2 separate regions of the Homo sapiens genome follow, and region 2 is linked to region 1. Evidence: fine-mapped expression QTL. Tissue or cell type: whole blood. Region 1 holds a variant in brackets; the other region holds the start of a gene. All regions are shown on one strand. Distances are between the middles of the regions.

Region 1 (4,399 bases):
ATGAACATTGATGCAAAAATCCTCAATAAAATACTGGCAAAACGAATCCAGCAGCACATAAAAAACCTTATCCACCATGATCAAATGGGCTTCATCCCTGGGATGCAAGGCTGGTTCAATATACGCAAATCAATAAATGTAATCCAGCATATAAACAGAGCCAAAGACAAAAACCACATGATTATCTCAATAGATGCAGAAAAGGCCTTTGACAAAATTCAACAACCCTTCATGCTAAAAACTCTCAATAAATTAGGTATTGATGGGACGTATCTCAAAATAATAAGAGCTATCTATGACAAACCCACAGCCAATATCATACTGAATGGGCAAAAACTGGAAGCATTCCCTTTGAAAACTGGCACAAGACAGGGATGCCCTCTCTCACCACTCCTATTCAACATAGTGTTGGAAGTTCTGGCCAGGGCAATTAGGCAGGAGAAGGAAATAAAGGGTATTCAATTAGGAAAAGAGGAAGTCAAACTGTCCCTGTTTGCAGATGACATGATTGTATATCTAGAAAACCCCACTGTCTCAGCCCAAAATCTCCTTAAGCTCATAAGCAACTTCAGCAAAGTCTCAGGATACAAAATCAATGTACAAAAATCACAAGCATTCTTATACACCAATAACAGACAAACAGAGAGCCAAATCATGAGTGAACTCCCATTCACAATTGCTTCAAAGAGAATAAAATACCTAGGAATCCAACTTACAAGGGATGTGAAGGACCTCTTCAAGGAGAACTACAAACCACTGCTCAAGGAAATAAAAGAGGATACAAACAAATGGAAGAACATTCCATGCTCATGGGTAGGAAGAATCAATATTGTGAAAATGGCCATACTGCCCAAGGTAATTTACAGATTCAATGCCATCCCCATCAAGCTACCAATGACTTTCTTCACAGAATTGGAAAAAACTACTTTAAAGTTCATATGGAACCAAAAAAGAGCCCGCATCGCCAAGTCAATCCTGAGCCAAAAGAACAAAGCTGGAGGCATCACACTACCTGACTTCAAACTATACTACAAGGCTACAGTAACCAAAACAGCATGGTACTGGTACCAAAACAGAGATATAGATCAATGGAAGAGAACAGAGCCGTCAGAAATAACGCCGCATATCTACAACTATCTGATCTTTGACAAACCTGAGAAAAACAAGCAATGGGGAAAGGATTCCCTATTTAATAAATGGTGCTGGGAAAGCTGGCTAGCCATATGTAGAAAGCTGAAACTGGATCCCTTCCTTACACCTTATACAAAAATCAATACAAGATGGATTAAAGACTTAAACGTTAGACCTAAAACCATAAAAACCCTAGAAGAAAACCTAGGCGTCACCATTCAGGACATAGGCATGGGCAAGGACTTCATGTCTAAAACACCAAAAGCAATGGCAACAAAAGCCAAAATTGACAAATGGGATCTAATTAAACAAAAGAGCTTCTGCACAGCAAAAGAAACTACCATCAGAGTGAACAGGCAACCTACAAAATGGGAGAAAATTTTCGCAACCTACTCATCTGACAAAGGGCTAATATCCAGAATCTACAAAGAACTCAAACAAATTTACAAGAAAAAAACAAACAACCCCATCAACAAGTGGGCGGAGGATATGAACAGACACTTCTCAAAAGAAGACATTTATGCAGCCAAAAAACACATGAAAAAATGCTCACCATCACTGGCCATCAGAGAAATGCAAATCAAAACCACAATGAGATACCATCTCACAGCAGTTAGAATGGCAATCATTAAAAAGTCAGGAAACAACAGGTGCTGGAGAGGATGTGGAGAAATAGGAACACTTTTACACTGTTGGTGGGACTGTCAACTAGTTCAACCATTGTGGAAGTCAGTGTGGCGATTCCTCGGGGATCTACAACTAGAAATACCATTTGACCCAGCCATCCCATTACTGGGTATATACCCAAAGGACTATAAATCATGCTGCTATAAAGACACATGCACACGTATGTTTATTGCGGCACTATTCACAATAGCAAAGACTTGGAACCAACCCAAATGTCCAACAATGATAGACTGGATTAAGAAAATGTGGCACATATACACCATGGAATACTATGCAGCCGTAAAAAATGATGAGTTCATGTCCTTTGTAGGGACATGGATGAAATTGGAAATCATCATTCTCAGTAAACTATTGCAAGAACAAAAAACCAAACACCGCGTATTCTCACGCATAGGTGGGAATTGAACAATGAGAACACATGGATACAGGAAGGGGAACATCACATTCTGGGGACTGTTGTGGGGTGGAGGGAGGAGGGA[G/T]GGATAGCACTGGGAGATATACCTAATGCTAGATGACGAGTTAGTGGGTGCAGCGCACCAGCATGGCACATGTATACATATGTAACTAACCTGCACATTGTGCACATGTACCCTAAAGCTTAAAGTATAATAATAATAAATAAATAAATAAAAATAAAATAAAGTTACAAAATGTTTAAATTATAAAGTCAATAAATATATATTGTAACAAAAAAAAAGAAAGATAGCATCGATAGTGTGATGGCAACAGGAACAAAGAGAAGTAGATTGGGCATAGGAAGACAAGATTGGTGACAGACTGGATGTGGAGAACAAAGGAGAGATCATTCTCCCTCATCTGATGACTACTAGCTTTCTAATCTAGGTTAGATAGTAGTACTACACAATGGTATAGGAAATACTGAAAACAAGCCAGATTCGTTAAAGAGATACGTGATCCTGGGCAAGCTACTGAATATCTCTGAGCAACAGTTTTTATTAAATGGGGTTAATTATACCCTGTTGAGAGACAATTATAAGTATTATGGTATGAAAAGGATCTGGCACCTAGCAAGTCCTCAAAAATTTGTAGTTATTACTATTTTCTCCCAGATTCTCCCAAGATTGTGTTCTCAAATGAGGCAATTTTGCTTCCTGCCCCTTATTTGGGACATCTGGCAATATCTGGAGACATTTCTGGCTGTCACAACTTAGGGTGAGAGGGGTTGCTATTGGTATTTGCTGGCCAGAGGCCAGGGATGCTACTAAATCTTCTATGGTTCACAGACAGTCCTTCTACAACAAAGACTTAACCAGCCCAAAATATCAATAGCGCTAAGGCTGTGAAGCCATGTTCAAGAGGGATTCTGATTCTGATAACTGCACATGAAAAGTTCTTTTGTATCCACTAATAACAACCATCCACATGAGTTAGGGAGTTAAACTGATTTACTACTGATAACCTGTTCAATCAGTTTCCAAATTCAAGCCTGGTTACAGAAGTTGTTACCAGAAGTGAATTCATAACCTACATTTTAAACATACAAAAATATTAATGTCTTCTAACCATGAAAGCTAATTTGTTTTCCCATTTTGATGTCTGCATAAAGAAAAACCTGAAATACTACAAATTAACTGTCATTTTATTAAGAATCAGATACTCAGCCGGGCGCGGTGGCTCACGCCTGTAATCCCAGCACTTTGGGAGGCCGAGGCAGGTGGATCACGAGCTCAGGAGATTGAGACCATCCTGGCTAACACAGTGAAACCCCATCTCTACTAAAAATACAAAAAAAATTAGCCGGGCATGGTTGCAGGCCCCTATAGTCCCAGCTATTCGGGAGGCTGAGGCAGGAGAATGGCCTGAGCTTGCAGTGAGCTGAGATCGTACCACTGCCCTCCAACCTGGGCGACAGAGCGAGACACCGTCTCAAAAAAAAAAAAAAAAAAAAAAAAAATCAGATACTAAGATCCTTGAATAAAAACTCTATGAAAACTAGAGGCTTATTTTAGTGTCATTATATAGAAAAAAAATGGTTTGCAATGAATCTATTTAATAAGTGCTGCATTATTACACAAGGATTACCAACAATGAAAAATAGACTGCAGTCTAATTCTTACAAAACCATTTCAAATTTTATGACAATGTTTATTAAATCAAAATTTTAATCAAAACTGTGAAACTATCCTTCAAGCTCCAAGCCCTTAAATCCATTGGAAATAGATGAATTCATTGATTAAATATAAACTTCATATCATTTTGGACTCTATGGATAGTGAAGCTATTAAACCACTATGCTCAACTGTCAACAATTTAAACTTTGATTAAAATCTGAGAGAACTGTCCAAAAGACCTCATAAAATCTCACCAGGGTCAAGAACTGGGACCTGATCACAACTGATACCACTTCACACCAAGGATAGCTTTTACAAAAAACAAAACAAAATAAAAAAAAATAAGTGTTGGCAAGAATGTGGAGACACTGTTGGAACCTATGTGCATTCCTAGTGGGAGTGTAAAATTGTTCAAACTGTGGGAAATAGTTTGGTGGTTCCTCAAAAAGTCAAACATAGGGTTACCATATGGTCTAGCAATTCCATGTCTAGATATTAATATATACCCA
Region 2 (4,399 bases), 80 kb after region 1:
CAATCAGAGAGAATCCAGGGACTGAGTCCAGGCCCTCCCATCTCTCTAAGCTCCCTAGCTCAATATGACTTGGAATCCCTTTTCCCTTCACCATTCCCATGGCTACTGCCTTAAGACTTTTGCAACAGTTAGACCTCCACGCCTTCAATATGCAATGCCTGTAGCCCCAATACCCAGCCCCAAAAATGCCTCAGGAAGAATCATCTCTGTATAAAGAAAGGATCATATTGGTAATTTTTATCCATTCTTCAATGATAGTCAAACAAAGCAAGTTTTTCCTAGGAAATCGTTCCTGCCCTCTTTCTTTCCCTGTAACTCCAAAGCTCAGTTTGGTCCTTTTCAAATTCTATGCATATCTCTACTATAAGATTTATCTCAACTTACGAAACTTACTCCCTCCAAAAACTGCTGGAAATACCAAAGAGAAAAGAATGAATAATATATATATACCCACACACACACATTACATATGTTGAAATTACGAAACAATACCAACATTTCACCTACCCAAGACTAATCGCCCACTCTTCCCCTTTAAAACCTGGCTGTAGTCATTTTCTTTTTTTTTTTAATCAAATATAAAAATAATTTATTAAAGGTTTATATCAGAGAACTGCTGAAGCAACAAGAACTAGAAGAGTTAATATTCCAGAAAAGGGAAAATCATGGAGAGGTAGTCCAACATTCTGCAGCTAGCTTTTCCCTGGGTGCATATAATAATTCTTGGTGTAGGCAAGAAGATGAATACAATGGTTATATACCAAACAGAAAAATCGATATCAGAGAAAAGAGCAGGGCTTATGATGGACTCCAAAGAACAGGGTGAGAAAATTGGAGATTAAAGGAGAATGGGGCTGCTTCACCCTCAAATTATTTGCCAAATTTTGAAACTATGTCATTTTCCCTTTAGAGTCTCCTCTCCCTCTTCTCTGCTGGCTCCTTCTCATTTGCATTTAAACTTGTTTAAAACTCTTCCAACTTAAATAAAAACAAAAACCCTCACTGAATTCTCTGTTGCTCTCCAACTGCAACTTTTCTCTTTCATTGCCACACTTCTTACATATTGAATAGATTGTCAGATAATTCAGAAGCTTACTTTCTCCATTCTTTGTATGTTACCTCTATGTATCTGAAGTTTAGTGAGAAATACAATGTTTCGCGATCTTTTGTGACAGGCTAAATATACTGAGATTGGTGTTAACTTTTGTTTGGATTGGTAAGAGCTTACAGTAAGTCTGGAATTGATACCAATAGAGACAGGAGGAGGAAATGTCAAACTGAGTCTATTCAAGTGTGACTTGAATGTGTTTCCGAAAAAGGAAAATCTCATTTCAGATACAGCAGTAGCAATGACTGAGGCTGCGAGACATGCTGGCAGAGTCCTTACAAGCCGCAGGGGACCTACAAAGTGTGCAGTCCGAGTGATAGAAATGTAAAGAATGGGTAACTTAAAAGGTAAAGAAACTTGGAGAAAAAGCGACAGATCTGCCTGAAAAGAGAATTAGCAACTGGCACCTGCCAGAACATCTAAAAAATCGGTAGCTACAAAAGGGTTTACCGGCATTGCAAAGGGAGAACTCACCCAAATTAAGGTGAGATTCAGTACTGACGAGGTAAGGGAAGGGGTGAGTGGGCTAGCTTACGGGAACCCTCAACTCCCACAACAATAAATAACTACAAAAGCCCCAAAACAGAGGTACCTGGCGCAACACCTCGGCCCTGGCATTCCGGGTCTGTTCTTTCCGCTCTTCGATACTCTTCGCACTTTCAAATCTACCACTAGCAGCCGCCATACTTGTTGCCATCGTAAAGCTAAGAAGCCGCAAGAAAATTCTAGTTTACGACGGTCGTAATTTAACAAACAAACCGGGACTTCCGGACCCGAGGAAGGAGGAGCACGGCTCCACCAACAGGGCATGCGCACATCTGAGGTCGCTTAGGGCTCGGATTACCGCAGCCCAGATTTTAAAGACCCGAAGGGTGTTGGAGGGTTTAATTCTTTCAGGTGTTGGGTGCGATTGTGAGCAGGATTAATACCCGTATATATTTATTATGCACTTTTTACTATATTAACAGCTTTCTCACCAATTTCGTCTTAAAATCACCGGAGTAAGTTACAAGCTCTTGGAAGTTAAGTTGGTACCTCTCAAAAGTTTTCTGCGGAAGTACCCTTTGTCGCCAGAGCATCATTTCCCTGTGCTGGAGGAATGGGATAAAGGGAGGCTGCCAGAAAGGTAGTGGCAGCTGGCAGGAAGGACAGAATTGCCTTGAAGATTCAGTGTTTTGTTTTGGTGGATTTTACTTAATATATGAAACACTCATGTGAATTTTGCATTGCACTTCACAATTTACCCGTGCTTAACTTGTTAGAAGTTTACATTATATTTTTTCCTCTGACCCCATATTATTTACTCATACTTATCCATCCAAGCATTTTTCATTACAATGGACAGTTACTTATTTATTTCTGCGGAGATTTCTTTGTTTTGTTTTACGCATGTATCGCCCAAACATAAAACTTTTAAGTTCAGAAGAATAAGACATTCTAAGGTGATGAAGTGCTTTGAGAACATAAGACACTAAGCTTACATTTACAAGAAGAAGAAGGCTGGGGAATTAATTATAAACGATACCTTAAAGACGCTAAAAATAAGTAACATAAGCCAGGTTGAGGTAAATACTCTTTCTCTTCAGGTTTCATAAAATTTAATGTGTGTTTGCAAGAAGCTTTCCAAGAGTTTTTACATTCACTACCATTCTATGAGTCTGAATCTTGAACACACAATGCCTACTTGTTTGATATGCAATAGAAAGTATTCATTTTATTTTAAAATGTAATTTACTAATCGACCTTGTAATATTTAATCAACTGACTACATTGACTGATATTTGTCATAACTAGCATCAACGTCTTTTCAGATTCTCTTGGAATTCAGAAAAACATCCATTTCACTGTTTTGCATCAATTCAATAAAAATAAACTGTGATTATATTAGAAACGTGTGTGTTTTAATCAGTTCAGGCTGCTATAACAAAATATTATAGAATGGATGGCTTATAAATAACAAACAAGTATGTCTTACAGTTCTGGAGGCTGGATAAAATCAAGGTGTTGGGCTATTTGCTGTCTAGTGAAGGTGTGTCCTGGTTCCTAGAGGGCAGTATTTTTGCTGTGTCTCATATGGCGGAAAGGGAGAGGGATCTCTCTAGAACTTCTTTTATAGGAATTCATGAGGGTGCTGCTCTCATGACCTAATCACCTCCCAGAGTCCCTACCTCCATATACCAGCACATTGGGGATTAGATTTCAACATAAGAATTTTGGGGAAACAAACATTCGGTCTAGAGCAATGTGCAAAGTTATATGAAGAAAACTTTAAAATCTTGCATAAGCTCCCCAAAAAGACTAGAACGAATGGAGAGGTATACTATGTGCTTAAAGAAGAAAACATCATAAAAAATCATTTCTCAATTAATTTGTAAATACCATGCAATACAAATAAAACTGCCCAAAAAAAAGTTGGGGTTAGAGAGGGGAACTAGATATGTTAAAATAGAAAAAAGAAAAGAAAAGAAAAGAAAGAAAAAGCAGGTTATTTTGGCTAGGTTTGCATTTGGCCACACCTAATGCGAATCCAGTCACATGGCTTAATCAAATAAAGGATAACGTAACAAGGAGCCTAAAAGTAACTGGTCCAGGCTTGGTGCAATTGCTGAAGGAGCCAAATAGTTTATCCTTTTTCGCTTTGTTGCAGTCTGTGACTTTAGTATTTGTAGTCACAAGCAGGGTATCATATTCTTTCACATCTGTTCACGGCATCTGATAAACAAGAATAAAGAGAAAGGACAAAGGGTAAACGTTGTTAGCTAAGCTGGCCTCATTTTTTATTAGAAAAATGATGGCTTTTCCTAAAGCCTAGTTCAGTTTCTTTCATTTAAATCCTATGATCCAGAAATAGGTCAGATGATCACAATTAACTACAAAAGTTTCATGAAGATTGCAGGATAGTTGTGTTATAGAATGTCACTCAACTTGGGTTTGTCGGAGGTTCTTTTGTGATTAAATTCAAATTTGGCCTCTTAAGCAGGACGATCACAGAAGTGAGGCGGTCTTACTGCATCCTGTTGGGTAGCGCATGATTTCCATTTGTTCCATTACAGGTGATGTTAATTCTGATCATTTAAATAAACTGGCATCTGCAGAGCTTCTCTGCTGTAAAGTACCTCTTTTCCTTCTATAATAAGTATTTTGTGAAGTGGTTCTTTGAAACTATGTAGATCATGTACCAAATTTTCAAGTTATTTATTTTTATATAATACAGATTCATAATTTCTCAGTGGATTCCTGTTTTTGTTCAGTGGGATAAAAATTCGTTATCAGTATTTATTTTGATCCTCA

The links. PIP is the estimated chance that this variant, and not a neighbour inherited with it, causes the effect.
Region 2: CWF19L2 starts here. The variant in region 1 is fine-mapped to the expression of CWF19L2 in whole blood (INTERVAL, PIP 0.97).

What each region holds. Positions count from the first base shown.
Region 1 is chr11:107,376,340-107,380,738 of GRCh38, forward strand. All of the region lies in intron 12 of CWF19L2 (CWF19 like cell cycle control factor 2), which reads right to left. Among named protein-coding and RNA genes, the nearest start is that of CWF19L2, 79 kb to the right of the region's middle. The variant G/T (reference allele first, on the strand shown) is at 2,298.
Region 2 is chr11:107,456,012-107,460,410 of GRCh38, forward strand. CWF19L2 (CWF19 like cell cycle control factor 2) reads right to left here and starts at 1,814. Exons shown (of 18, transcript NM_152434.3): 1 at 1,701-1,814. The coding sequence starts at 1,805. RefSeq lists an enhancer at 1,593-2,098.